Linked DNA regions of Homo sapiens. The protein of the gene in region 4 purifies or fractionates together with the protein of the main gene of each other region. This does not show direct contact. Each region holds a gene or a part of one and is shown on either strand. Other genes may lie near its edges.

Region 1 (6,990 bases), on a different chromosome or scaffold from region 4:
ATTTCGCCATGTTGGACAGTTACATTCTTAAAGGGCTGCTGAAGATCGTATGGACATGGTAGCCCATAAATCCCAAAATGTGTACTCTGACCCTTTACAGAAGCTTACTAACTCCCACTCTACATGTGAGGGCTGCGGTGGCCAAGAAGAGCTGGAATTTAAGTGTGAAGGTCCTAAGACCTGCCCCAGCCCACTTCCCTGCCCCGGAGGCCACCAGGGGTGACAAGTAGATTCATGCCCTGGAGTGTTCCTTCTCTCCGGGGCTTATGGCAGCAACTGAATGACTTAGAAGTCCATGGGAGTGCTTCTGTTGTGGGAACTCGTGTGGTCTGGGCATAGCTGTGCCAGGCACCTATGGTCCAAGCCCCTAGAAGCATAGACTCTGACCAAACTGGCGACCCAGCCTTCCAGCAGGCAGCACTGGCTCCCACCAGGGCCCTCATCCTGGGAACTGACTTGGCCATGTGGGAGGCTTGGGAGACCCATGGGTTGGTTTCTCAGGGTCAGGGTGTAGCAGTGGGCTCCAGATGTGGCAGGTGGGAGGTGGGAGGGGCCCCTCCCAGCATGCCACTGACCTGGCCTCTCCCTGCACAGCCCAGAACATGCCGAGCCGGAGGTCCAGGTGGTGCCGGGGTCTGGCCAGATCATCTTCCTGCCCTTCACCTGCATTGGCTACACGGCCACCAATCAGGACTTCATCCAGCGCCTGAGCACACTGATCCGGCAGGCCATCGAGCGGCAGCTGCCTGCCTGGATCGAGGCTGCCAACCAGCGGGAGGAGGGCCAGGGTGAACAGGGCGAGGAGGAGGATGAGGAGGAGGAAGAAGAGGAGGACGTGGCTGAGAACCGCTACTTTGAAATGGGGCCCCCAGACGTGGAGGAGGAGGAGGGAGGAGGCCAGGGGGAGGAAGAGGAGGAGGAAGAGGAGGATGAAGAGGCCGAGGAGGAGCGCCTGGCTCTGGAATGGGCCCTGGGCGCGGACGAGGACTTCCTGCTGGAGCACATCCGCATCCTCAAGGTGCTGTGGTGCTTCCTGATCCATGTGCAGGGCAGTATCCGCCAGTTCGCCGCCTGCCTTGTGCTCACCGACTTCGGCATCGCAGTCTTCGAGATCCCGCACCAGGAGTCTCGGGGCAGCAGCCAGCACATCCTCTCCTCCCTGCGCTTTGTCTTTTGCTTCCCGCATGGCGACCTCACCGAGTTTGGCTTCCTCATGCCGGAGCTGTGTCTGGTGCTCAAGGTACGGCACAGTGAGAACACGCTCTTCATTATCTCGGACGCCGCCAACCTGCACGAGTTCCACGCGGACCTGCGCTCATGCTTTGCACCCCAGCACATGGCCATGCTGTGTAGCCCCATCCTCTACGGCAGCCACACCAGCCTGCAGGAGTTCCTGCGCCAGCTGCTCACCTTCTACAAGGTGGCTGGCGGCTGCCAGGAGCGCAGCCAGGGCTGCTTCCCCGTCTACCTGGTCTACAGTGACAAGCGCATGGTGCAGACGGCCGCCGGGGACTACTCAGGCAACATCGAGTGGGCCAGCTGCACACTCTGTTCAGCCGTGCGGCGCTCCTGCTGCGCGCCCTCTGAGGCCGTCAAGTCCGCCGCCATCCCCTACTGGCTGTTGCTCACGCCCCAGCACCTCAACGTCATCAAGGCCGACTTCAACCCCATGCCCAACCGTGGCACCCACAACTGTCGCAACCGCAACAGCTTCAAGCTCAGCCGTGTGCCGCTCTCCACCGTGCTGCTGGACCCCACACGCAGCTGTACCCAGCCTCGGGGCGCCTTTGCTGATGGCCACGTGCTAGAGCTGCTCGTGGGGTACCGCTTTGTCACTGCCATCTTCGTGCTGCCCCACGAGAAGTTCCACTTCCTGCGCGTCTACAACCAGCTGCGGGCCTCGCTGCAGGACCTGAAGACTGTGGTCATCGCCAAGACCCCCGGGACGGGAGGCAGCCCCCAGGGCTCCTTTGCGGATGGCCAGCCTGCCGAGCGCAGGGCCAGGTGAGATCAAGCACAGCTCTCAGGGGCCCCGGGGGCATGGGTCTGGCATGTGTGTGATCTCAGCATCTGCGGCTAGTGTGGGCTGGGAGTTGCTGCGAGAGCTGGGCCCCCTCCCCCCCTGCCCCTCGCCCCCCCCGGGCCTCCCTCTACATCACCACCCCAGGTTTGGTGCCAGGCTGCTCCTTATCTCAGTGCTGTAGAAGAAGCCCAGGAAAGCTGTCCTCTCACAAAATGGGTTGGCCCAGCCTCTTGCCACCCATGAAGGGCAGGCCAAGGGGGCTGCCCCACCTTTGCCTGCCCAGTGGGAGAGCAACAGGCTGCAGCACACCGAGGCCAGGAGAGCTGTCACCCTGGCTGCTGTGCTCCTCTGGGCCCAAGCATGGCCTCTGGGCACTACCTCCTCCAGGGTCACAGTCCCACGGATGGCTCTGTGGGCCAGGATCTGCCTTAGGCTTCACCCACCTCAACATCTTGCTGTGTTGTTCAGGCTGGTCTCAAACTTTGGGCTCAAACAATCCTCCGCCTCAGCCTCCCAAAGTGCTGGGATTACAGACATGAGCCACCGTGCCCGGCCGTGCTGTTCTGTTCTCCAATAGAGAAGCTGGTGGAAGTCCCCAGTAACCCAGAGGTGATGTGTGATGCACACAGTCTCCTCACTCTGAAGCTGCACATGCGATGTGAATCTTCATTTGGGGTCCGCTGTTAATATGGTGTTTTTCGGGGGATACAGCAATGACCAGCGTCCCCAGGAGGTCCCAGCAGAGGCTCTGGCCCCGGCCCCAGCGGAAGTCCCAGCTCCAGCCCCTGCAGCAGCCTCAGCCTCAGGCCCAGCGAAGACTCCGGCCCCAGCAGAGGCCTCAACTTCAGCTTTGGTCCCAGAGGAGACGCCAGTGGAAGCTCCAGCCCCACCCCCAGCCGAGGCCCCTGCCCAGTACCCGAGTGAGCACCTCATCCAGGCCACCTCGGAGGAGAATCAGATCCCCTCGCACTTGCCTGCCTGCCCGTCGCTCCGGCACGTCGCCAGCCTGCGGGGCAGCGCCATCATCGAGCTCTTCCACAGCAGCATTGCTGAGGTAGCGGCCCGGGTGTGGGTGCCAGCTATGGCACGGCCAGTCCTGAGGGCGAGGCCAAGCTTGGCTTCAGGTCAGCCTCAGGTCCCTGGACTTCCCTGATGTCGGAGTCCTCAGCTGAGCTGCTCACAGCTTTGAGGACCTGGGCAGTGAGGTCCTGAGTTGCCCTCCCCTGGCCATTTGTGCTGTGTCACCACCTCCTGTGCCACTTCCAGCCCCAGGTAGACCTCCCACCAACAGCCATCTCCCACCCCTCTCTTCCTCTCTGCCTTGAAGCATACGGATTCATTGGTGAGCCAAGAGGGGCTTCCCATGTCTCCTTGTGGAAGCTGTGGGCATGTCCCTGGTATGTGCAGGTTGCTAGGGTGGTGGAGCTGACAGGAGGCCCCCCGTCTTCAGGTTGAAAACGAGGAGCTGAGGCACCTCATGTGGTCCTCGGTGGTGTTCTACCAGACCCCAGGGCTGGAGGTGACTGCCTGCGTGCTGCTCTCCACCAAGGCTGTGTACTTTGTGCTCCACGACGGCCTCCGCCGCTACTTCTCAGAGCCACTGCAGGGTAGGCACAGGGCCTGCTGGGGCTCAGGAGCTTGGAGTGTGTGGTTGGGGCAGGCCTGGGGGGTCATTCTCTGGAGCCAGCTGTGTGGCTTCAGGCAGCAGTCAGCGACTTGGCTGCAGTGGGCTGAGAGTTCCTTGTCTGAGGAAGGGAGCTGTCATGAGGGAGGGGTCCATGGCCAGATGTGAACGCAGAATGCACTGAGCCAGGGCCTGGTGACTGCTTGGGAACAGCCAGTGATGAGAAGGGGTTAGGCAGCCTTTGCCCCTGGGGCTGCACAGGAAGCCCTAGCCAGCGACCTGGTGACTCCCCTGAGCTGGAAGAGGCTCCGACTCCAGAGGGCATTGCCTATGGGGCTTTGCACGGGTGGAAGCCAGGCCAGCCAAGAGGACCTGTTCCTGCTGGATGTGCTGCACACCTAGGAACCTTGTGCTTGCCTGCCACCGCCTCCCTCTGTCCCTTTCTCCATCACACAGATTTCTGGCATCAGAAAAACACCGACTACAACAACAGCCCTTTCCACATCTCCCAGTGCTTCGTGCTAAAGCTTAGTGACCTGCAGTCAGTCAATGTGGGGCTTTTCGACCAGCATTTCCGGCTGACGGGTGGGTGACCCTCTGTGCTTTGTCCTATTTCGGGTGAAGGCCAGCATCACCAGTGGGCTTCCACCTTCCGTACGTGGGTGGGTTATCATAGACAGTTATCTCTGTGCTCAAGAGCCACTTCTTAACCGGGGTGGGAGGAAGCAGCTTCAGGAACTGCTGAGAGAGCAGAACTCACGCTCCAGGGCTCAGAGCAGGAGGTAGGGTGTGCGGCAAGCGCTGGCCCGGACAGAAGCAGAGTGGGCCCTGGTCTCGGGCAGGATGTTTCTGACTCACATTTCCTGAGGAGAGAAAGCTAAGCTCTTTGCCTAATGTCTCTGTCTCCCCTTCCAGAAAAATGCCTCAGCTCTTCCGGCCTGAAGGAATGGCCTCCTCCCGGGCCCCATGATTCTTTCCTGTGTGGGCCCTCCTGGCCCTGGCCTCTGGGCTGAGGCTTGCTAGGGACTCGGGGTGGCTCTAAGGGGCAGGGATAGGGCTGGGGAGCGCCGGCCTGTGGCCCTGACCAGCCCCTTCTCGTGCAGGTTCCACCCCGATGCAGGTGGTCACGTGCTTGACGCGGGACAGCTACCTGACGCACTGCTTCCTCCAGCACCTCATGGTCGTGCTGTCCTCTCTGGAACGCACGCCCTCGCCGGAGCCTGTTGACAAGGACTTCTACTCCGAGTTTGGGAACAAGACCACAGGTACCCCTGTCTAGCTCAGGCTGCAGACAGGCTGCCTGGACAGACGTCATGGGCCCCAGGGTGGCTCTCTGTGCCCCAGAACCCTCTCTGCCTCTATGTCTCTCTTTTCTCACTTAGCTGGCCAGGGTTTTATGTGGGGCTTTTCGATGGCAGAGTCTCCACTCCAGCAGTCCCTCAACCATCTGGCAGACACATCTCCAGTGCCTGCTTTGGGCTCCTGGCCTGTGGGCCCCACACTTGGAGCATCCTCTCCTGCCTGTCTCATGCCGGGGTCTCTCGGTTGGCTTGGGGCCCTTGGTGCTCCCAGCCCCACCAGGGGCCGGTTCCAGGCTATAGCCCAGGTGGCATCTCTCTGCAGGGAAGATGGAGAACTACGAGCTGATCCACTCTAGTCGCGTCAAGTTTACCTACCCCAGTGAGGAGGAGATTGGGGACCTGACGTTCACTGTGGCCCAAAAGATGGCTGAGCCAGAGAAGGCCCCAGCCCTCAGCATCCTGCTGTACGTGCAGGCCTTCCAGGTGGGCATGCCACCCCCTGGGTGCTGCAGGGGCCCCCTGCGCCCCAAGACACTCCTGCTCACCAGCTCCGAGATCTTCCTCCTGGATGAGGACTGTGTCCACTACCCACTGCCCGAGTTTGCCAAAGAGCCGCCGCAGAGAGACAGGTACCGGCTGGACGATGGCCGCCGCGTCCGGGACCTGGACCGAGTGCTCATGGGCTACCAGACCTACCCGCAGGCCCTCACCCTCGTCTTCGATGACGTGCAAGGTCATGACCTCATGGGCAGTGTCACCCTGGACCACTTTGGGGAGGTGCCAGGTGGCCCGGCTAGAGCCAGCCAGGGCCGTGAAGTCCAGTGGCAGGTGTTTGTCCCCAGTGCTGAGAGCAGAGAGAAGCTCATCTCGCTGTTGGCTCGCCAGTGGGAGGCCCTGTGTGGCCGTGAGCTGCCTGTCGAGCTCACCGGCTAGCCCAGGCCACAGCCAGCCTGTCGTGTCCAGCCTGACGCCTACTGGGGCAGGGCAGCAGGCTTTTGTGTTCTCTAAAAATGTTTTATCCTCCCTTTGGTACCTTAATTTGACTGTCCTCGCAGAGAATGTGAACATGTGTGTGTGTTGTGTTAATTCTTTCTCATGTTGGGAGTGAGAATGCCGGGCCCCTCAGGGCTGTCGGTGTGCTGTCAGCCTCCCACAGGTGGTACAGCCGTGCACACCAGTGTCGTGTCTGCTGTTGTGGGACCGTTGTTAACACGTGACACTGTGGGTCTGACTTTCTCTTCTACACGTCCTTTCCTGAAGTGTCGAGTCCAGTCCTTTGTTGCTGTTGCTGTTGCTGTTGCTGTTGCTGTTGCTGTTGGCATCTTGCTGCTAATCCTGAGGCTGGTAGCAGAATGCACATTGGAAGCTCCCACCCCATATTGTTCTTCAAAGTGGAGGTCTCCCCTGATCCAGACAAGTGGGAGAGCCCGTGGGGGCAGGGGACCTGGAGCTGCCAGCACCAAGCGTGATTCCTGCTGCCTGTATTCTCTATTCCAATAAAGCAGAGTTTGACACCGTCTGCATCTTCTAAACCAAGGGTCACTGGGATCCCAGCAGGGCTTCCGTCCAGGGCGTGGTCACATGGGGGAGGGAGGGTGCCCTGGAGACAGGAGGGTGAGGGGTTGGGGGAAAGGAAGGAGCAGCCCTCCAGGAGCCAGATGCTTCTTGGAACATGGGAGGCATGACAGGGCCATGGCCTCTCTGGACAGTGCCATGCTGGGCTGTGGCTAAACCATGAGCGCAGGGCAAACAAGAAACTCCTCAGGGCACCCCTGACACACCAGCCGCTGCCCCTCTGCCTGGGTGCGGGGCATGCCACCCTCTTCAGGCTGTCCTGCAGGTCTTATGTGTCAGTCACCCCTGGGCCCAACCCCACCTGTTTCACAACCCCTGTTGAGAGTGGGGGAGGGGCGAGGAGGACAGAGAGATCCCAGAGTCTGAGGTGGCTGGTGGGGGCCGGGGCATCTCACCAAGGTGGCCCTTGAATGGCAGCAGGGGAGGTCTGTGGGGAGGTGGACCCAGGTGGTGGACAGTGGAGGGAG
Region 2 (7,025 bases), on a different chromosome or scaffold from region 4:
ATGTGATCATCATCCTCGCAGAGAGGAATGCACAGAGAGGTCACAGAAAGCAGCGTACCAGGAGTCAGACCTAGGCAGTCTGGTGTCTAAGGCTATACTCTAAATTATTGAGTTAAATGATCTAATAAAATGTATATTAAGCATATACAATAAAACTTGGAAGTAAACGTGTTGACTGCTAAGCTACACAAACGTTATTTAGTACTATTATCTGTATTTCCTTTCATTTCCTTATCACTAACCAGTATTTTTTTAAACCACCACAAAATCAAGTTCTCTGTTAGAATTTGCCTTCATTTTTAAATATTCAGTAAGCATTATGGCCCAATTATGTAATATGTCTAAAGAAATTTTGCTGGCAGGGTGCGGTGGCTCACGCCTGTAATCCCAGCACTTAAAGAGGCAGAGGAGGGCAGATCACTTGAGCTCAGGGGTTCAAGACCGGCCTGGGCAACATGGCAAAACCCTATCTCTACAAAAAATACAAAAATTAGCCAGGTGTGGTGGCACATGCCTGTAGTCCCAGCTATTCAGGAGGCTGAGGTGGGAGGATCACTTGAGCCCAGGAGGTTGAGGCTGCAGTGAGCCCTGATCATGCCACGGCAATCCAGCATGGGCAGCAGAGTGAGACCGTTTTGGTTTTTTTTTAAATTGCGCACTCTTTTTTCACTGGGTCCATTTCATCTAGCAATGAAATCTACATTAAGGGGAAAAATCACTATTCCTGTACGATAACCCGCTTAAGTTCAACAAGAAAACTTTATTATTTAAGAATTTCTTTATAAAACTGAACTATATGTTCATGCATTATAATTCCAGGAAACTAAAGAACATAAAATTACCTTTAAAAGCTAATGTGGAGAATTTCAGGGGAAAATCAGTATTAACTTATAGTTTTATTATTGATATAAAAGAAAACTTCAAATACTGTACAGTAAGGTGTGCTGTAGAACACTATAATACACTATTACCAATTATTCATTACTCAAATGTAATATATACAGTAATCACGAAATCGGAAAATAATGGGCAACAGCCAGTGCCTTAAGGGTGAAATAACATCTATACTATTTTATTGAGCAGTTAAAGCACTTGCTATTTTTCTAAATATTTACACTATTACTGCTTATGTTTACAAATTCTAAGTATCATTTCCCTCCAAAAAGTAGACTTTCCAGTTCTTGGCACTAATTCTTAGTCAAATAAGCCTGAAAATACTGGCAACCTTTTCAGTCTTGCATTGCTCTACCACAGGCATAATAAGGGCTCAGGACGAGATTTCTGCATTCTAAAGAAAAGTAGGCAATACCTTAAAAATTTAAAAACTAAGTAATTGATACTCACAAGCAGGTAACATCAACTAAAACTTTTTTCTTTACTAATTTTTCCTTTTCTTTTACAAGAGAATAATCATTAATATTATACTACAAAAGCATGTAGTCTCCATAATTAAAAAATTAAATGTCAGATATACAAGTAATGGCATTTTCTCCAATAATTCATAATTTTTACAATTTCTGCTATTTTGGAACAAACATTAAAATTCCCACGATTTAAGTATCATTAAATATGAACTGAAACACTTAGCATCTCAAAGAATTATCAAGAATGGTAGAACTTGTAATTAACTCTATAACTTACATGGGTGATATAGTTCCCCTTTGTTGTTTTATTTCTTAAATATACATTCTACTAAGGAATATTTTCATGTGAACAGCTCTGGTTTGAAAAATTAATTTATACTGTGAAGAGCCTTAAGGTTGTACAATTTTGTTAAATTATATGATAACCTTGAATGGTAGGATGCATTTACTCAACTTAGAATATGGCGCTATTATTATTATAAATGGTGGTTTTTAATTCACATTAAGATAGGTGGAATTTAATCCAATTTTGCAAAGGCTTTGTGTTTATAAAAATCTTAAGATGGAAACCTTGCTTTGAGAACCATAAAACTCAAAATCTGTGTAGTATTTTAAGTATGAACCAATTGAAATTACTGTTGAAAAATGAAGACAAAACTGTATTGATATTCTGAAATAAACACTTTATGCTGCCACTATATTGACCAGTTGAAGTGTAATTAATGACAGAAGTAAATTTTTTACCTAAAGGTTAGTTATTAGTGAGGTCTACATATTTAGAGAGTTATTCAGTAGCAGATAGTATTGGTAGGTAACTACATAAAACAATACTTTTATACATTTTGCATTTAGTAGCTAACATGTGATGTCAGTACAATTCTCAAAAACCTGTCATTAGTAGTATGAGTTGCTAGCAAGTGATCTTCCCTGAGGTAAGAGACCATATGCAAAAGTCAGTGTTCATCTCCAATGAAGATACTTAAAAATAATGGCAATAAGGACCTGTGGCCAGGAATTACAGATGCATTTCAGATTGATATCTTAATTGCAAGCAGTAGGCTTGACTGTAAAAACCAAACTAAAAATCACTGGAAGACACAGAGCCAGTATCAGTCAATAGCATTTGCTAACTTTCTCAGGCCTCTACCCTAACATTTTCCAATAAAAATATCTGAAACAGAGTGAAGCGGGAGAAATGGGTTTGCTCTTTAACTAGTTCCTGAGTAACCATTCTCATGGAGTTAATTATATTCTATCTTAATATATGGCAGCATCTTGTTTTCTTCAATTTACAACAATTTCTCATTACCAGTATTCTAGATACATACTATCTTCAACACTACCTGGACTTTAGGTCATCAACTTAAATTTGGTATGATTAACTATAAAATGGATTACTGAAGAAAAAATTTACAACTTTATTTCAATGTTTAGTGAAGCACTGCAAACAGAATTGCAGGAATGCATTTTAGTTATAATGTTACCTCTAGGGCTAAAAAAAAAAAAAAAAACAAATTTACCTGAGATGTCTAGCTTGCACGCCAAGATGTGGCTATATCACAAATGGCAGTACTAGAAAAATAACCATGCTATAGTCATGTATTTGGTTATGAAAACCATATGGAAAGACAAAGGATGATATTTAAAAACTTAAAAGAAACCCTATTCTAAAACTTCTTTGTGAGGATACCTGGCCTACTTCTCAAAAACCATCAATTCACCCCAACCAAATTTTCAGCTGATTTGAAAGAATTTCAAGAAATTTGATCACTTATCAGAATTGAGCCTTTTATTCATTTATCAAGGGAGAACCCAAACTATTACTGTACTATTCATACCTAACTGGCTTTTAAATAGCATTGCTGTAGCTAGAGAAATTAATAAAGTTGTCAGAGATTAAGTCCATCTTCTAACATTCACATACGCATTCCAATTTGCACTAAATGTAAGAATAGGGAGATAAAGTTTGTTTCTGGTATTTTATGTTAATGCTATGAGATATCTGTCAGTTATCAATGAAGAAAATATTTGTTAAAGAAGATTATATCATTTTACATGAAAGCAGTGCATTTTTTGCTTAAACAGTTTTCCTGTATTTAAATCCCCCCAAAAAAAGTTCCAGTGGCTGAAAAAGCCAAAAATAATTATAGTGGTTAGTGAAGTGATATTTGTAATTCGTAGTTTAATACACAGAAGCCACCTTTACTAAGTAGTAAATAGTATTTGGTAGCTACAGCTCTTATTTTATGCAAAAATAGTGTACAATATAAAAGTTTAAAAATTTCCTGCTGTTTTGATAGGGAGAAAATTTAGGATGAAGATAAAATATAAAGACAAACGTGATAATGTGATAAAAACTAACCCAAATATATATTTTGCTCAGATACACCTGTAAAATGTCTAGATTCTCCATTCTTTCCTTATTTAAAATAGAGTAGTTTGTTTAAGAAGTGGATTCAGTTAGAGATACTTTCACAGAAAGATGACCAAAATCTGCCTTATCTGGAAACACAAGTTAAAGTACTGTCTATATCCCTTATGAATCAACAGGCAGAGATTTTTAAACATCTGATAAAATACTTTCTGACATACATTTTCTTAGAATTACAAACACAGTTCTGCATCTGTTACATGTGCAAACAGAGACAGCCAGGCTTTGAATGCTCTAGGTAAGAGATTGTATTAACATATATTTTGTCTTTCAGCCATTCAAATTCAACTTAATTTCAGTGAACAGAGAAGAATATGGGTTGAAATGTACACTTCAGGATACAGATTTGCAGAATAAAATAAAATAGTGCAATACCAATCTCAGGATAAACACTCTTCTGTTGTTTTTAAGGAATAAGCATGAAAGCTGCTTCTCAAGGAAACTGGCACTGAAGATTTGATGAATACACTAAGCAAATACCCAGCTGATCAGGGTGTGATGCAGTAAAATTTGCATCTAAACCCAAGTGAAGCCAACAAATAAACTCTTATGGATTCTGAAAAAAAAAAAAAAATTTTGGCTCAAAGGGGCATAAATACACTTAGCATATACAGGCTTAAATACCACTGATCAAAATTGTAGAACAATTAACTCATTCATAAAGATAAACTCTTATTTATAAATTCTCTACTGCTACCATTATTTCTTTTTCTACCACACTTTGCAATCAACTTTTCTGCAAGATTAAAAAAAAAAAAATCAGGTTGTTCTTGACCAAGCCAGGAATCAAAAATAATGGTAACATATTAATAGAGCACACACAATTGGCTGTGGCTCAGACAGCAACACAACTGAATCACATTGACCTCATCAATCTAGAAGAAATTTTTCCCCAATCTTGCACAAATCAGCAAAATGTTATATCGTTACATTCTATTCTCAAGATATTTTCGCCAAGAAATCTCTATGAATGTGTTTACGTTCATAGAAACATTTGCATTCCACTGTCTAATAAATAATTGTATGAATTTTAAGATACAATTTAGTTCAGATAAAATTCAAGTTTACATAAACCTTTTGACACTAGTATATGAGATGGTTACCTTGATGACATCAACATTAGCACAATCTCATTTCCCCTCCATTTGTAGGCTTTTCAGAAATCAAACGTATTTAAGTAAGAGAATTTTCATGTTGGAAACATTAAGACTTTCATGGAATTAAAATTACAAAGAACTTCCAATGAACCACATATATGGAAGAAAGTCATCTCAGCAGATCTAACAGCTAATTTATAGAAATTCAGAGCCAGCCTGGGCAGCAGTATATTAAAAGCTATGGCCAATCACACACTTGCTATCATGCACTGAATAACAAGATATAATCTTTGAATTATATACGTACAAGATTTTTAATGACTAATCAAGTTACGTGGCCCAGCCAACAAATATTACATATTCACAATAAACATTCTGCCTTTATTAGCCTCTAATTAAATCAAGAGTGATCCATTGGCTCAGTTGTGTTAGTCATCTCAGCATCTTGACTATCCATCTCTTCAAGCTCCTCCACGGAATTTCCCCTTTGTGCTTTTGACCTTGTGGCAAAGGCTGCTCCCAGTGCATCTGCTACACAGCCATCAGTTGTTTCTGTATTCAAATTTTCAGTACCACCAGTTAAAGGAAAAGATTCAGGCAAACCAGTCTGAAGACTCCCAGACTTTGCAGAAGAACTCACAACTTCTGTTTTCCTTTGAGGAAGATCAGATGGTGACTGCTCTGTACTTTGATCCCGAAGGTGCCTGTCCATTGAAGCCTGAATAGAAGAAACCATTTCCTGCAATTTTTTTCGCTGGGCCTCAACCAAATCAGGATCAAGCTGCCTGCCGTCTCTCATTGTTACTACTCCAGGAGCTATTCGAATAAGCTCACTATTACTAGAAGAAGCTGTGAATACAGAAGGCTCTGTTTTAGTGGAACTATTACTAAAGTCTGTCCCTGTATTATGCTTTCTTACAACTGAAGTTTCCCTAGCTCTTGGATCAAGGTGTGGGTTACCAGATGCAGTTCCTAAAGAATGCCCTTTTCCCTGAAAGGCAGTTACGTTATGAAGTTGCTCAGATTTCTTTTTCACTACTCCACCACTACCTAGTTTTAATAGCCCATGTGAGGGACTTGATTCCCTACTTCTTGTAGTAGCCTCTGCTCGAACCTGACTTACAGCCTCTTTAACTAAATCTTCAACATCAGGACCAATGGGGAAATGTCCTGCAGCATCCACACACAATTCCAGTCTATCTTCAGAAGCATTATAGACAAAGGTTTTGCCAGGCAGATGTGGAAAAGTACAATGCTTGCCATCAGCCATACCTAAAAAGGGGAAAAGATATTTAACATATTAAAATCTTAAGGTATTAATAAAAGTGTAGTCAAGACAATTATAGTTAAAATAATGAATTTTAAATAACAATTTACAGATAACAGCTTTCAAAACAAAATTCATTCAGATTTATTGTATTACAAAAAAGAACCACCGCCATAGACCCTAAAGTAGTTCTCCCCAGAGAATCTTTTTTAAAAAAATTTTTTTGCTATCTTAACTAACAGCAAAGTTAAGAATGGGGCTTGAGGTCACACAGTGGCTCACACATGTAAACCCAGCACTTTGGGAGGCTAAGGCAGGTGGATCACCTGAGGTCAGGAGCTCGAGACCAGCCTGGCCAACGTGGTGAAACCCCAACTCTACTGAGAATACACAAAATTAGCTGGGCATGGCAGCAGGCGCCTGTAATCCCAGCTACTTGGGAGGCTGAGGCAGGAGACTCACTTGAACCTGGGAGGCAGAGGTTGCAGTGAGCTGAGATTGCGGCACTGCACTCCAGCCTGGACAATAAGAGTGAAACTCTATCTCAAAAAAAAAAAAAAAAAAAAGAATGGAGCTTGAGGCCAGGTGCAGTGGCTCATGCATATAATCCCAGCACTTTGGGAGGCAGACAGGTGGATCACTTGAGGTCAGGAGTTCAAGACCAGCCTGGCCAAAATGTTGAAACCCAGTCTCTACTAAAAATACAAAAATTAGCTGGGCATGGTGGTGTGTGAGCCTGTAGTCCCAGCTACTGGGGAGGCTGAGGCAGGAGAATTGCTTGAACCCAGGAGGCGGAGGTTGCAGTGAGCCAAGATGGCGCCGCTATACCACTATACTCCAACCTGGGTGACAAAGCAAGACTCCAT
Region 3 (7,025 bases), on a different chromosome or scaffold from region 4:
TTTGTTCGGTTTTGTTTGTAGAGATGTGTTTTGCCATGTCACCCAGATTGGTCTCAAACTCCTGAGCTCAAGTGATCCACTTGCCTTGGCTTCCCAAAGTATTGGGATTACAGGCATGAGTCACTGTGCCCAGCCTGCCATTGTTGTTATACTTCTCAGTATTATCCTTGCAACAGAAACGGTGATTTATTAAAATAAACGTTAAGTGACAGGGAGGACATAACAGAAAGTGAGAAGGTGGAATCACCAGCAGTGTAACATTCTGCCTGCTAAGCTGTTGTGAGAAGTAAGAATTTTTTTTTTTTTTTTTTTTTTGAGACAGAGTCTTGCTCTGTTGCCCAGGCTGGAGTGCAGTGGCGTGATCTCGGCTCACTGCAAGCTCCGCCTCCTGGGTTCACACCATTCTCCTGCCTCAGCCTCCCGAGTAGCTGGGACTACAGGCACCTGCCACCACGCCTGGCTAATTTTTTGTATTTTTAGTAGAAACAGGGTTTCACCATGTTAGCCAAGATGGTCTCGATCTCCTGACCTCGTGATCCACCCGCCTCAGCCTCCCAAAGTGCTGGGATTACAGGAGTGAGCCACCGCGCCCGGCCTTTTTTTTTTTTTTTTTTTTTTTGAGATAGAGTCTTGCTCTGTCACCCAGGCTGCAGTGCAGTGGCGAGATCTCGGCTTGCTGTAAGCTCCGCCTCCCAAGTTCACGCCATTCTCCTGCCTCAGCCTCCCGCCACCACGCCCGGCTAATTTTTTTGTATTTTTAGTAGAGACGGGGTTTCACCGTGTTAGCCAGGATGGTCTCGATCTCCTGACCTCGTGATCTGCCCGCCTCGGCCTCCCAAAGTGCTTGGATTACAGGCGTGTGCCACCGCACCCGGCCGAGAAGTAAGATTTAACTTGTTTCAGAACATAGTGGAAAGATTCCCCATATTTCTCAAGGAGATGGTCCTCCTCAAGTCTGGTCACCTCTTCCCTCTGTATCTTAGCTTTACCTTAGAAAATCGCATCTCATCACCTTCATATTGTGTGACACAAAGATTAGGGAAAACCCTTCCACCTTTAGTAGAGTGTTTTGAGATTTGTGACCTTTAAAGTGAGAATATTTAATGTTTAGATAGTGGTAACACAAATAGCCTAAGATAGATTTTTAAATGCCCATCCCAGTTTTGTCTCCTACCTCTCTGCTGGGATGGGCTGTGGAAGCTACATGCTACATGGAGAGTTGGCATGTCCTTGAACAATTTATCAATAGTAGTTCAGAGAATGCAGCCTCCTGGTAGGCTTGTACTGGCTTCTTTGGTGCTGTTGAAAAAAAGTCCATGAAATACGCTCTTATATTGAAACACCTACTTCTACTAGCAAAGCCCCTCTGCTGTGCCTCTTCGTTGACTCAAGGTCCTGCGTCATAGACCTTATGCGATCCGTCTCACAGTTAGCTTTGCAGGTGTCCTGTAAAGACACCACAAGGCATGGCTCAAAAGAGTAGACTCTGGTGTTCAGCCTGTGGAGCAGACTCCCTCGCAGAGCTGGACAGACTCCCTCGCAGAGCTGGACTACCCTGCCTGGCCTGTCTCCTGTCCCTTCTCGTTACCTTTCTTGCTTCAACAAGTGAAATCCTTACCCTCTGACACTGGCTGTCTCTGCTGCCACTGTGCTTGCCTCGTTGTGTCTTTCATCTGCCACTTAGACTTGTTCCCAAGTTTATCTGACAAGTCTTTGCTGTGCCCTGAGGTTGAGTCTGACCCTGACTTCCATACCCTGGCCACACTGTTTCCACCTGCTGTGATCCTCCTCCTCAGCTGGTCTGCACGCCAACTCCTCTGCCACTTCTGCTGTGTTTGGTATCAAGACACCTGAGACCAGGATTTTGCAGGGGTAGTCTTCCCTAAAACTCGTGTTGGTCACTGGTGCCTGCCATCCTGCTAACCCCCTGAAATGTGATGGTGACAAAGTAATTTTATTATCATATATCTGAGTTTTGTTAACATGAAATAGCACCCCCCTCCATTGATAATCTTGTTATGAAACTCGTACCAGTCTTTGACATAGTTCGTGTATTGTGAAAAGAGATTAGTGGCCGCTATTATGATCCATTGGGTGGAATTTTTCTTGGTGCAACATTTAGTGTGGCTTTCCCCTCCTTTTCTTTTGAGTTTTTGGATTTCTGTGGGAAAACCATAATATTTAGCATTAATAATTTTTTTTTCAATTTTGTATGCAAGTGTTTTCCAAGTATTGTTTTGTAGTTTTAAAATCGAACATCTAATTTATGCTCAGTTGTACGTACATTGTAGTGCCACAGACATGCTTTCGGGGAACTTAAAAAGAAAAAATCTGCTACGGATATGAGTCCTTCTGTGATTAAAGGCCTAACCCGTACTCCAGACCAGGGGTCAGTACACTGCAGCCCCCTGGCAGACTCCTCTGCGTGTTTTTGTAAATGAGGTTTTATTCAACAGCTGCGCCTGCTTATTTCTGTGTTTTCTGTATTGTCCATGGCCGCTCTGGCTGAACTGACTCCTTGTGCAGAGGCTGTGCGGCCCGCAAAGCCTAAACCCTTTGTTATCTGGGCCATTTACAGAAAAGTTTGCTTTAGAAGTTTAAAGGGGAGATAATTGCAGGGGGCTGCAGCAGTGAAGGGAGGCTTCAAGACGAGGTGGTCTTCTAGCTGAACCGTACTCAGTGGGATATGAAGAGGGAAGAGTAGGGACATAGCACTGCAGACAGAAGTATTTTCACATTTTGGGAGCAAAGGTGAGAAGGTTGGTTATGTGTGGTTTCTAGCGGTTTAAAGGTTGTGTAAGGAATAATGGGAGATAAGGGTCATAATGAGAAGGTCTTTGAATTCCAGTTAAAGGCTTTAGATTTTAATTTTCTTTTTGTTTTTGAGATGGAGTCTTGCTCTGTCGTCCAGGCTGGAGTGCGGCGGCGCGATCTCGACTCACTGCAAGCTCCGCATCCTGGGTTCACGCCATTCTCCTGCCTCAGCCTCCCAAGTAACTGGGACTACAGGTGCCTACCACCATGCCCGGCTAATTTTTTGTGTTTTTAGTAGACACGGGGTTTCACTGTGTTAGCCAGGATGGTCTCGATCTCCTGACCTCGTGATCCGCCCGCCTTGGCCTCCCAAAGTGCTGGGATTACAGGCGTGAGACACTGCGCCCGGCCTAGATTTTAATTTTCTAGCTAACCGGGAGCCACCGCAGGCAGCTTTGTGAGCAGGGGATGTCCTGATTAATGGTTTAGGGAGATTTAATTGGCAATGTTCTGTAGGATGGGTTGGTGAAGGAAGAAATCCAAATCCAGGAGTTTACTGGACAGCTTTCTCCAGAGCGAGTTGCAGTAGCAACCCCAGCACTGCAGCGCTCACAGCAGCAGAGGCTGATTCCTGCCCGCGTTTCGTTTGCTTGTGACTCTTTTCCAAGAGTCTTCATTTCCAGATCCAGGACCAGGCCTTATGTGGCACATGCTGTTTTTATGGCAAGAGAGTGGCAGAAACCTAGTGTCTTTTCCGGCACCATCCTGGACTGGCATCTCAGGGTCCACGGACCAAAGCAGGGTGTGACGTACAGCCTCCTATGGGGAAGGTGAGCCCCTGCTCGGACGCTGTGCTGAGCAGAGCTGAGGAGCCCGTACCTGCTGTCTGGGCCATCTCACCATGACTGAAGGTGCAGCTGGATGTCTCCCCTCAGCCGCAGATGCTGGACGCTGGAGCCGGCCACCATGCGCGAGAGCCCCTGAGGCGGCTCAGACTCAGCACCCACATTCACTTCTGGCCTCAACCCTTTGGGGCTTTGGGACCTTCACCTGCTTGGTCACCACCTAGAATTTTGGCGTGCTGGGTCCCCCTCTCAGCTGCCATGTGGTACGGCTCCAGGTCCTCTTGCCAGTTCCCCCTGAACAGTGATCAGAACCCCTGCCTGAGTGGGACCTGCACCATGTCCCTCCTGCACTACGCTGTACCTCCTGGGGCTCTCCTGCCCCAGCCTTGAGCCACTCCCCTGTCTCTGCCACATAGCTGCTCAGATGATATAAACAGGGCAGTGATCTCCCCAGGGGTGATTCTGACACCACTCCCCGCCCTCCTGCCACATTTGGCAATATTTGGAGACATTTTTGGTTGTCCCAACTAGGAGGGGATGGCCAAGGATTTGTGGAGGCTGGGGATGCTGTTGAAATCCTACAGTGCACAGGATGGCGCCAGGCTCAGAGCGTCTAGGCGAGTGACTCTGCTGCCTGGCTCTCCTCCCTGGCTCCCCAGTGCCTCCTGGACCATGCTCCACAGCGCTGCGTGACCCCAACCTACTCTGCTCTCCAGAAAAACTGCCATGTGGTCATGGGCCAAGTCTTTCTTGGCGTCCCTCCTTCCAAAACTAAGCCAAGCTCACTGGTTCCTTCAGCCCTTTGACTCAGACTCAGGTAATGTCTGTGGGAGCGCCTCCTGGATCGCTGCCTTGTCCTCAGGTGCTCCACCCCCTCTCGTAGTGCTCTAGGTGGTGCTTTTGGTCACTGCACAATCACATAATATTTTCTCCCCTCTAGACTGGGAAGTCCTTGAGGGCAGCAGATACATTTGTATTTTCTTTTTTTTTTTTTAGAGAGAGAGTCAGGGTGGGTTGTCCAGGCTGGAGTGCAGTGGTATGATCACAGCTCAGTGCAGCCTCCATCTCCTGGGCTCAAGTGATCCTCCCACCTCGGCCTCCGAAAGTGCCAGGATTGTAGACATGAGCCATGGCACTTGGCTGTTTGTGTTCTGAATGTCTTGCTGCAGATTGCAACATTTTCTTTGAGCACTGGCTTCAGTAAAGATGATTGGGTTTAGGATGGGGAGTTGCCCTCAGAGAATGGCTGGCGCAGCAGGGGGAGGGACTCGTTGACACATTTCCCACGTCGGCTGCTTCCATCTTCCTGGGCCTCTCTTGTAACTTGCTTTCCTAAGTGTAAATGTCTTGATTCTCACAGATTCTCTATTTTTGCTTCCTAGAAAGTTTCAATTTTGTTTAACATTTTTGAGCAGATAATATACGTGGTTCAAAAGTACAAAGGGAGCTCAGTGAAGCCTCCTAGTCTCTACCCTGGAACCTGGTTCCCCTGGAAGCTTTGCTGGACCAGCTTCTTGTGTATCCTTCTAGAGATACTTTGTAACTTTGCAAGCAAACAAGTGTATGTATTCTGTTTTTTTCCTTACCCTTTTCTTTTTAAAAAGTTTCTGAACCTTGCCTTTTTCAACTATGTTTGAGAGATCTTTCCATATCAGTACATTTTCCGGTACATTCTTTCCATGGCCGCACTGTATTTGGCTGTATGGAGGTGCTGTGGAATTTTCATGCTGTTACCAGCAAGGCTATAGGCACAGTGTTTTGCAAATGTACCTGTAGGACCCATCCTAGAAATAGCATCTCTTTCTTCAATCACCGTTTATTCCGTCACATCAGGGTTTGCTCTTGTCTCTTAGTGTCTTTATTTCTGCACTTCCTTTGGTCATTTATTTCTCCTAATTATCTCATCTCTCTATATTTTAAATAATATAGTAGGTCAAATTAAATGAATGTCTCAGTTGGAAACTGGTTCACCTTTTGTGTGTTCTTTTGGTTGAGTGACTGGAAATATACACGTCCACGCAGAAGCTTGTCCATGAGTGTTCACAACAGCCAGAAAGTGGAGACAACCTAAATGTCCATCAGCGGATGAACGGATAAACACAATGTGGTCCATTCCTGCAATGGAATATTATTTGGCAATAAAAGGAAGTGAGTTACTGATTCATGTTATAACGTGTGTGAACCTTAAAAATATGCAGGCCAGGCACGGTGGCTCAGGCCTCTAATCCCAGCACTTTGGGAGGCCCAGGCGGGCGGATCATGAGGTCAAGAGATCAAGACCATCCTGACCAACATGGTGAAACCCTGTCTATACTAAAAGTACAAAAATTAGCTGGGCGTGGAGGTGAGAGGTGACAACGTGCTGGCAGCCCTCGCTTGCTCTCGGCGCCTCCTCGGCGTCCGCTCTGGCCACGCTGGAGGAGCCCTTCAGCCAGCTGCTGCGCTGTGGGGGCCTCTCTCTGGGGCTGGCCGAGGCCAGAGCCGGCTCCCTCTGCTCGCAGAGAGGTGTGGAGGGAGAGGCGTGGGCGGGAGCCGGTGCTGTGGCTGGCGCCTGCTGGGCTTGATCTGGGACGAGCTTCCTCTGGGCTGCCGGAGTGCCCGGGCTAGGTGCCGTGAAGTCCCACCATTGAGAGGTGAAGCCGGCTGGGCTTCTGGGTCGGGTGGGGACTTGGAGAACTTTTCTGTCTAGCTAAAGGTTTGTAAACACACCAATCAGCAGTCTGTGTCTAGCTAAAGGTTTGTAAACGCACCAATCAGCACTGTGTGTCTAGCTCAAGGTTTGTAAACGCACCAGTCAGCAGCACGTGTGTCTAGCTCAAGGTTTGTAAACGCACCAGTCAGCAGCACCCGTGTCTAGCTCAAGGTTTGTAAACGCACCAATCAGTGCTCTGTGTCTAGCTAATCTAGTGGGGACTTGGAGAACTTTTGTGTCTAGCTAAAGTATTGTAAATGCACCAATCAGCACTCTGTGTTTAGCTGAAGGTTTGTAAACATACTAATCAGCACCCTGTCAAAACGGACCAATCAGCTCTGTGTAAAATGGACCAATCGGTGGGAGGTGGGTGGAGCCAGATAAGGGAATAAAAGCAGGCCACCCAAGCCAGCAGCGGCAACACGCTGGGGTCCCCTTCCATGCTGTGGAAGCTTTGTTCTTTTGCTCTTCGCACTAAATCTTGCTGGTGCTCACTCTTTGGGTCCGCGCCGCCTTTATGAGCTGTGACACTCACCGAGAAGGTCTGCAGCTTCACTCCTGAAGCCAGCGAGACCATGAACCCACTGGGAGGGAAGAACAACTCCTGACGGGAGGAAGGAACAACTCTGGACATGCTATCTTCATGAACCGTAACACTCACCGCGAAGGTCTGCAGCTTCACTCCTGAAGCCAGGAAGACCACGAACCCACCGGAGGGAACGAACAACTCCAGA
Region 4 (7,025 bases):
GAGCTATAGTTTCTAAAGCAAACATTAGGATAGTCTTTCAGTAGGGCAAAATATTTTAAGTCAGATACACCAGTTTCTTTACTCAAATACTTTAAAAGTTTTCACATAGAAAGCTTTCTAATTTCTACATCTTATTGATTCGCATTCTAAGGAACTGCTTTGCTTTAATAAACAACCATATTTGCCCTTCTGATCCCAGGTTTAAAAATGTTCAATCAGCCATTTGATGTCAAAGAAAACAAAGTAGGCTAAGTCCAATTTCACAAAAACTCTATTCATAGATGAATAAACAGCTTCAGAAACTAGCCGCAGCAAAAAGTGCCAGAAAATAACAATGATGTGAACAAGGCAGAAAGACAGAGGGCGCTCTCTATTCTAAATGACCATCATACTTGGCCAGAGAGGAGCCAGGGGCAGAGGAGAGCATCTACCTTAGCCCTGGCAGGAGGGGAAAGAATGAGCAGACATCCCAACTTCAAATATAATGTTTACATTACTGAGATTGGAAGCTGTCAATGACCCAACTGTAACTAGAACTTGGCTTCACAAAGGCTGAAACTGCCAACACCTGAATCCAAGACACCATCGCCTCCAGAATACTGCAATGCCTTCCAGCTGGATTTCCTGAATTCATTTCTGCTCAAAAACCCTGACTGATCTTTCAACACACAGATCAAATACTGTCACTCTCTGCTTTCCACCGTAACTATTAAAAAATAAAAATAAAAAATTGCACCTCCCTGACCACGACTTGTAAGAACCTACATGATCTGGCCTCTGTGTGTCTCTCTCACCTGCTCTTCACCCATCACCCCCACCCTCGCTCTCATGACCCCACCACAACTTCCTTTTCTCAAACTCTCCAAGCCGGTTCGCACCTCAGGGCCTTTGCATGAGTTATTCCCTCTCCTAGAATGCCCTTCTCCCTAATTTTCTGATGGCTGGTTCCTTCCTACCATTCATGCCTAAATGTCACCTCTGAAAGGCTTTCTGATGACGTCATCCAAAGGAGTCCCCCACCCAGTCCCTCTCCTTCACCTCTCTGCTTTATTTTCTGATTTATGCTTATCAGTAGAAATTTTCTTATCATCTGTTTTGTGGTTGGTGGTGGCGTTTGTCACCCACACATCTACCACACTAAAGCCGGGACTATGGATTCCCAGCACTTAGAACAATACCTAAAACCGAGAAGATTCCCCTAAGAACAGGGGGAAAGCGTCCAAGGAAACAATGAGAAGACCGAAGACGGACTTGATTTAACTTACCTCCTGTATAACAACAAAAGGGTGAATGGAATTGTCATAAATTATTAATAAGCACATGAAGGGTGACAATCAGCCACAACAATATTAAACATTTAAATAAAAATATCCCAATTACACCACCAGTTAACTTGAGTTATTATTGATCATGAATAATAAGTGGGTAAACACATACGCCATACGTTATGCAAGGGGCTTTCCCTGTATTTCCTCTTTTAATTCCACACATATGCCATACGTTATGCAAAGGGCTTTCCCTATATTTCTTCTTTTTTTTTTTTTGAGATGGAGTTTTGCTCTTGTCGCCCAGGTTGGAGTGCAGTGGCACGATCTCAGCTCACTGCAACCTCTGCCTCCCGGGTTCAAGAGATTCTCCTGCCTCAGTCTCCTGAGTAGCTGGGATTACAGGTGCCCACCACCATGCCCAGCTAATTTTTTTTTTTTTTTTTTAGTAGAGACGGGGTTTCACCATGTTGGCCAGGCTGGTCTCAAACTCCTGACCTCAGGTGATCCACCCACCTCGGCCTCCCAAAGTGCTGGGATTACAGGCGTGAGCCACCACACCCAGCCTCCCACACTTGTTGGTTAGGAAGGAACTAGAAGGCACCACCTGGATAGAGCAGAAACCAGGGACGGGACAGGACCACAGAACAGAAGCCTGTGAGGCCTGGTCCCAGCTCCTCACCTCTGGACCTTGGACAATTCATTTCACTTCCAAAAGCCTCCTCCATGCTGCTCATCTGCAGTGGAAACTGCCTTCCTGTGCATCTCCAGGCTTCAGAAGAGTCAAATGAGAACAAATGCAGAAGTGCCCTCAGAGCTCATGAAAATAACATCTGATTTTTTCACTTAAAGCTTACATAATGGGTAAGCCAGTGATGACACGCCAGAAATAGCATAAATGAGAGGAAAGAGAGAAAGCAAGGCAAGAACGCTCAGGTCCGGGAGCTAGAAGACAACACGCTGGGTGAAAAGAGAGGCAGTGACACAGGCATGGGGACACAGACGGGAGGGCCCCTCTCGCTTCCTCACAATAAGGGGAATGCACGAAGGAGCCGGAGCAGGAGTTGTCACTTGCCAATCTCCATGGATAAAGGATGGAGCTACCCCAGTCTCAGCGCAACTCATATATTTGTGCCAAGTTTTTAGAACTGCCATGGTTATTTATTCCTGAAATGACATTTGGTGTCATTTCCCATCAACAATAAAATCTCCACCAAAAGTCAGTTAAGTGTGGTAAACCCCGTGTGGTCACCAACTATAGGATAGTGTGACTAGCCAAAAGCCCATCTCATCCTCCTAGGTCCTACTGAGGATCCTGAGAACAAACTTCAACCACAGTGACCACTGACCACCCCACAACTCCCTTCTTACTACTTGTGTTAAAGATTTTTTTTTAAAGGGGGGCAGGGGTTGGTCCTGAGCATGGTGGCTCCCATCTGTAATTCCAACACTTTGGGAGACCGAGCCGGGAGGATCACTGCAGACCAGGAGTTCCAGACCAGCCTGGGCAATACCACAAGACCCATCTCTACAAAGATTTTTTTTTTAATTAGCCAGGTGTAGTGGCATGTGCCTGTGGTCCCAGCTACTTGGGAGGATGACACAGGATGATCACTCAAGCCTCAAGCCCTGGAGTTTGAGGCTAAAATGAGCTATGATCGTACCACTGCTTTCTAACCTGGGCAAGAGAGCAAGACCCTGCCTCTTATTTAAAAAAAAAAAAAAGGCTGTTATAAGAACTCTTCAAGGAATAAGGAAGAAATCTCAAGGGAAATGTCTCACTTATTTTGCTAAGAATTGCCTGATGCTGTTGCTAGGTGGTGCTTATAAATATAAGCACACACCGTAAGACTGGTTTTTTACTTTAATTAGTGGCAAAGACAAGCCTTCTCAAATTAAGTGTCATCATTCCAGAATGTAAATAAAACAGCTGGAGTACATACCAGACCAGATAGCCCAATACTACAATAGCAGGACTCTAGCAAAGTTTGAAAACACATTTGCAGCTACGTGCTAGAACAGTGCTTCTCTAATTGTGATGGGTGCACGAATCGCCAGGGGATCTTATTAAAATGCAGATTCTGATTCGGCAGGCCCAAGCTTCTGCATCTCTAACAAGCTCCCAGGTGATGCTGAAGTTGCTGGTCACAGACCAGGTACCAGACAGGGGCCAACAGTTGACAGCAAAAACCATCCTATGCCATGCTCACTGCAAGCCCAGGTACTATTTTTTAAAAGTGAGGAAATATGGCTCAAACTAATTTACCCAAGGAAAGCTCACGAAATTTGCAAGAGGCATTTATCACTCCGCTAATCAAGAACCTTCCTGATCAGCTGCAAGTTCTGCCCCGGATCCTCTGACCAGCTGGTAAACGGCAGAGAAATCTCTTTGACACTGACAGGTGCCCCTGGATGATAAGAATACACCTTATGAAAGACTTCACTGCTCAGAGAAAACAGTTTGTGTCCTGGAGCTATAGGAAAAAGGAAGAGAGAAAGCAATAAAAACAAGGAGTAGAAATGTATGGAGAGCTTACATAAGATCACACAGTCAAAAGCAGAACTGGGATACAAACTGAGTCCGGCTCCAGAGCCCATGCTCTGAACCATTCAGCTCCACCCCCTGGTACAAGTAATCAAAGTGACAAAGTGATGGAGTACAGGAGAGCCCCAAGGAGACCACAACTACTAATTAGGGGACCCTGAGCAAATTCTCTCTCTGCTTCAGTTTCTTTAATATGGGCTGGAAATTATTCAAACACCTCACTGGGTTTTCTAAGGATGAAATCAAAGAGGCTGGACAGGTGCAATGTCTCACATTTGTAATCCCAGCACTCTGGGAGGCCGAGGTGGGAGGATCACTTGAGCTCAGGACAAGATCAGCCTGGGCAACAGAGTGAGACCCCATCTCTGTATTAAAAAATAATAAGTAAAGAAGTTTTATAATGAGAGAGCCTAAATAAACACTTAGAACAGCGTCTGCCAAGATAATAAGTGCATCAATCAATGTTTTTCTGTTATTAAGAGAATTTTATCACTGGAGTGCAGGAGAGTGAATGGAACCAAGGAGAGGGTGGAATGAAGAGCTTTTCTGAACTATGGCCAAATGGTAGACCTACGGCTGCTAAAACAAAAAGGCCTCCCTTTCCCAGGGACCACAGAGACTAAAAGAGAAGGTATAACCTAAACTGGAATCAAGGTAACAGAAAGAACTGCCTCTGTCTGGACGGTGGCAGGAAGGGCCTAACAGTGCAAGGTAGTACATTGCAGTTGACCTGTGATGTATCAGATCTCTGTAGTTAACTTGGAAATTCCAGACTTTCCATGGCCAAATAGTCAAGCACCTTAAGACTGCTATGTGTCATAAACAAATAGACACGACAGGGAAAGAGCAAGTCCCGTGGCTTAGACCTTGAGCAAGAAAGCCCCCTTTTCTCTTGGTTGGTGATGGGGACTGCTACCAACACTAGCAGCACCAGAAGCTGGCCAGAGAGACTTCTGTCCTGGGACCAAAGGTGGGTTTTAGAGATGTGCTGACTCAACTACACAATTTTATTATTATTATTATTTTTTTTTTTTTTTTTTTGAGACAGAGTCTCACTCTGTCGCCTAGGCTGGAGTGCAGTGGCACGATCTCGGCTCACTGCAGCCTCCGCCTCCCGGGTTCATGCCATTCTCCTGCCTCAGCCTCCCGAGTAGCTGGGACTACAGGCGCCCACCACCACACCCGGCTAATTTTTTTTGTATTTTTTAGTAGAGATGGGGTTTCACCATGTTGGTCAGGATGGTCTCGATCTCCTGACCTTGTGATCCGCCCACCTCGGCCTCCCAAAGTGCTGGGATTACAGGCGTGAGCCACCGCGCCTGGCCAACTACACAATTGTTGAGAGCCTACCCACTCGAGGCTGATCAACAGCCAAGGCTAGGACAGTTCTGCTGGGACAACCAGTCCCACGTCTTCCTCGTCGAAGGCACTCCCCAGTGGCCTTTTTAAAGCAGAAAAACGACTTGTGGTAGCTGCATTTGACAATGAAATTTCTCATATTTAAATCAAGCTTAGAGAAAAGGACCTCATATAAGTTCAGATTTTGACCTAAGAAGGTTGGACAGGAATGAAGATATAATGCTTTTTCTAAAACAGGGCTGGATATAAGTAGGGAATGTGGCACATGTGTACTCTGAGAACTGAGCTATGAAAATCAGTGCATGTAAATCCCTGTTGCCTGCCTACCAATATCTATTCTCCCCTTTTTCCTTTCTGACCAAACTCCAAGTTTTTTTCAGGGCCACAATGTACCAAACTTAAAAAAAAAGAAAGGAAGGGAAAAAGCAAAAAAGGAAGAAGAAATGAAAAGGAAAAGAAAGGAAAAGAGAGGAAAGGGGAGGAAGGAGGTAGTGAGGGAGGGAGGAAAGAGAAAGAAGAAAAGAAACAAAAGAAGGAAAAAGAAAGAAATTACAGCAACCAGCCTTCCCTGCTGCATGAGGTGGCCATGTGACATTTCTGGCACCTGAGATGTAAACCAGGTCACTTGACAGTTTTTCAAAGAACTCTTTAAAGGGGAAGACTTGGCTGCTACCTGTCTTCTGTCTTCCATGAGACTCCCTTCTGCCTGGAATAGGAAGACAATCATGCAGGAGCCGCCACCTTGCACTGAAGCATTAAGTATGAAAATGAACACCATGTGCCAGGCCATACCCTACGCCATGTGCTACGAATGGCTGAACAAGATGGCAGCGCCATGGAACCCCAATTTGGTTAACCCACTGGGTTTTCTGTTATGTGCGGCTAACCCTACACGTTGTAAAAGATCATTTGCTTTGCAAAGGCCTTTACTGAACTGACTGGCAAGGCGCCATGAACTAGGAATTAATTTGACTTACAAATAACTTTCTGACATGAACTAAAGATAGAGAATAACACAGACATATACTGGATGAGACTCCTCCGCTACCATATGCTATTCAGACCGAATCCTGAAGTTCTATTCATAAATGTAAAGATTGTCGGTGTGGTCTAGATGTGGCCTTGGGAAGAAACTCCTGAGAAAATGGAGTGGAGTGAAGCCAAACCACCTGCTCTGCTGGGTGACATCGGTCAATCTGTGTGTGACTCGGTTTCCTCAACTGCAAAATGGAAATAACTGTTCCTACCTCAAAGGTGGTGGTGCCTATTAAATGAGCTGATATTTGTACAATGCTTAGACATGTGCCTGACACACTGCTTAATAATTACTGAGGATCCACTAACATTACGGTAAAATTGGTGACAGTGTAGCTAAACATTAATAATAAAAGCCAGACAGGTTAATTCATTCTGTAGACAAGAACTTCTTTCCTAAGGCACACATCTGTCAAATAACAAGGAGGTGAGATCCAGCTGTCGACTGTGGCCAGGTTTAGACAGTTTTAAATCTAAGGCCTTCTATGGTTCTCATAATCGCCCTACCCAGATTCATGCAATACCAAGAGTAGCAAAGTCTACATGAAGAGCTGCTTATCAGTAGCATGTATTTATAAAATAAAGGTTGGGTAAAGAGATTAGCAAAGAGCACTAAAAATAGTCCTATAAGCAGACGAGCTTTTGTAAGTCGATAGTTCATTAAAAAGTCAATACTTGAGCATCATTATTATGAGAAATATTCAAGTAATGGGTCACGCAACTTGGAAGATTGCAGCCTCTTATCATCTTAGCCATCTTTTTTAGATTCGAACACAGAACGTATCCAGGTCTTTCTACTAAGCTGTATTTCAGGGTCCAAA

Evidence for each region.
Region 1: the proteins of CNKSR3 (region 4) and NISCH purify together in Homo sapiens (co-immunoprecipitation; 3 studies listed by BioGRID and IntAct, with this or other methods). This does not show direct contact.
Region 2: the proteins of CNKSR3 (region 4) and VCPIP1 purify together in Homo sapiens (co-immunoprecipitation; 3 studies listed by BioGRID and IntAct, with this or other methods). This does not show direct contact.
Region 3: the proteins of CNKSR3 (region 4) and ARHGAP39 purify together in Homo sapiens (affinity purification with mass spectrometry; 3 studies listed by BioGRID and IntAct, with this or other methods). This does not show direct contact.

What each region holds. Positions count from the first base shown.
Region 1 is NC_000003.12:52,486,602-52,493,591, forward strand, and holds the end of NISCH (nischarin), read left to right. Parts: intron 1-594; coding exon 595-2,004; intron 2,005-2,734; coding exon 2,735-3,077; intron 3,078-3,473; coding exon 3,474-3,630; intron 3,631-4,103; coding exon 4,104-4,232; intron 4,233-4,750; coding exon 4,751-4,912; intron 4,913-5,270; coding exon 5,271-5,881; 3' UTR 5,882-6,467; downstream 6,468-6,990. UniProt on the Homo sapiens protein: Acts either as the functional imidazoline-1 receptor (I1R) candidate or as a membrane-associated mediator of the I1R signaling.
Region 2 is NC_000008.11:66,629,209-66,636,233, forward strand, and holds part of VCPIP1 (deubiquitinating protein VCPIP1), read right to left. Parts: intron 6,165-7,025; coding exon 5,293-6,164; 3' UTR 1-5,292. UniProt on the Homo sapiens protein: Deubiquitinating enzyme involved in DNA repair and reassembly of the Golgi apparatus and the endoplasmic reticulum following mitosis. Necessary for VCP-mediated reassembly of Golgi stacks after mitosis.
Region 3 is NC_000008.11:144,675,839-144,682,863, reverse strand, and holds part of ARHGAP39 (rho GTPase-activating protein 39), read left to right. Parts: intron 1-7,025.
Region 4 is NC_000006.12:154,500,665-154,507,689, forward strand, and holds part of CNKSR3 (connector enhancer of kinase suppressor of ras 3), read right to left. Parts: intron 1-7,025. UniProt on the Homo sapiens protein: Involved in transepithelial sodium transport. Regulates aldosterone-induced and epithelial sodium channel (ENaC)-mediated sodium transport through regulation of ENaC cell surface expression.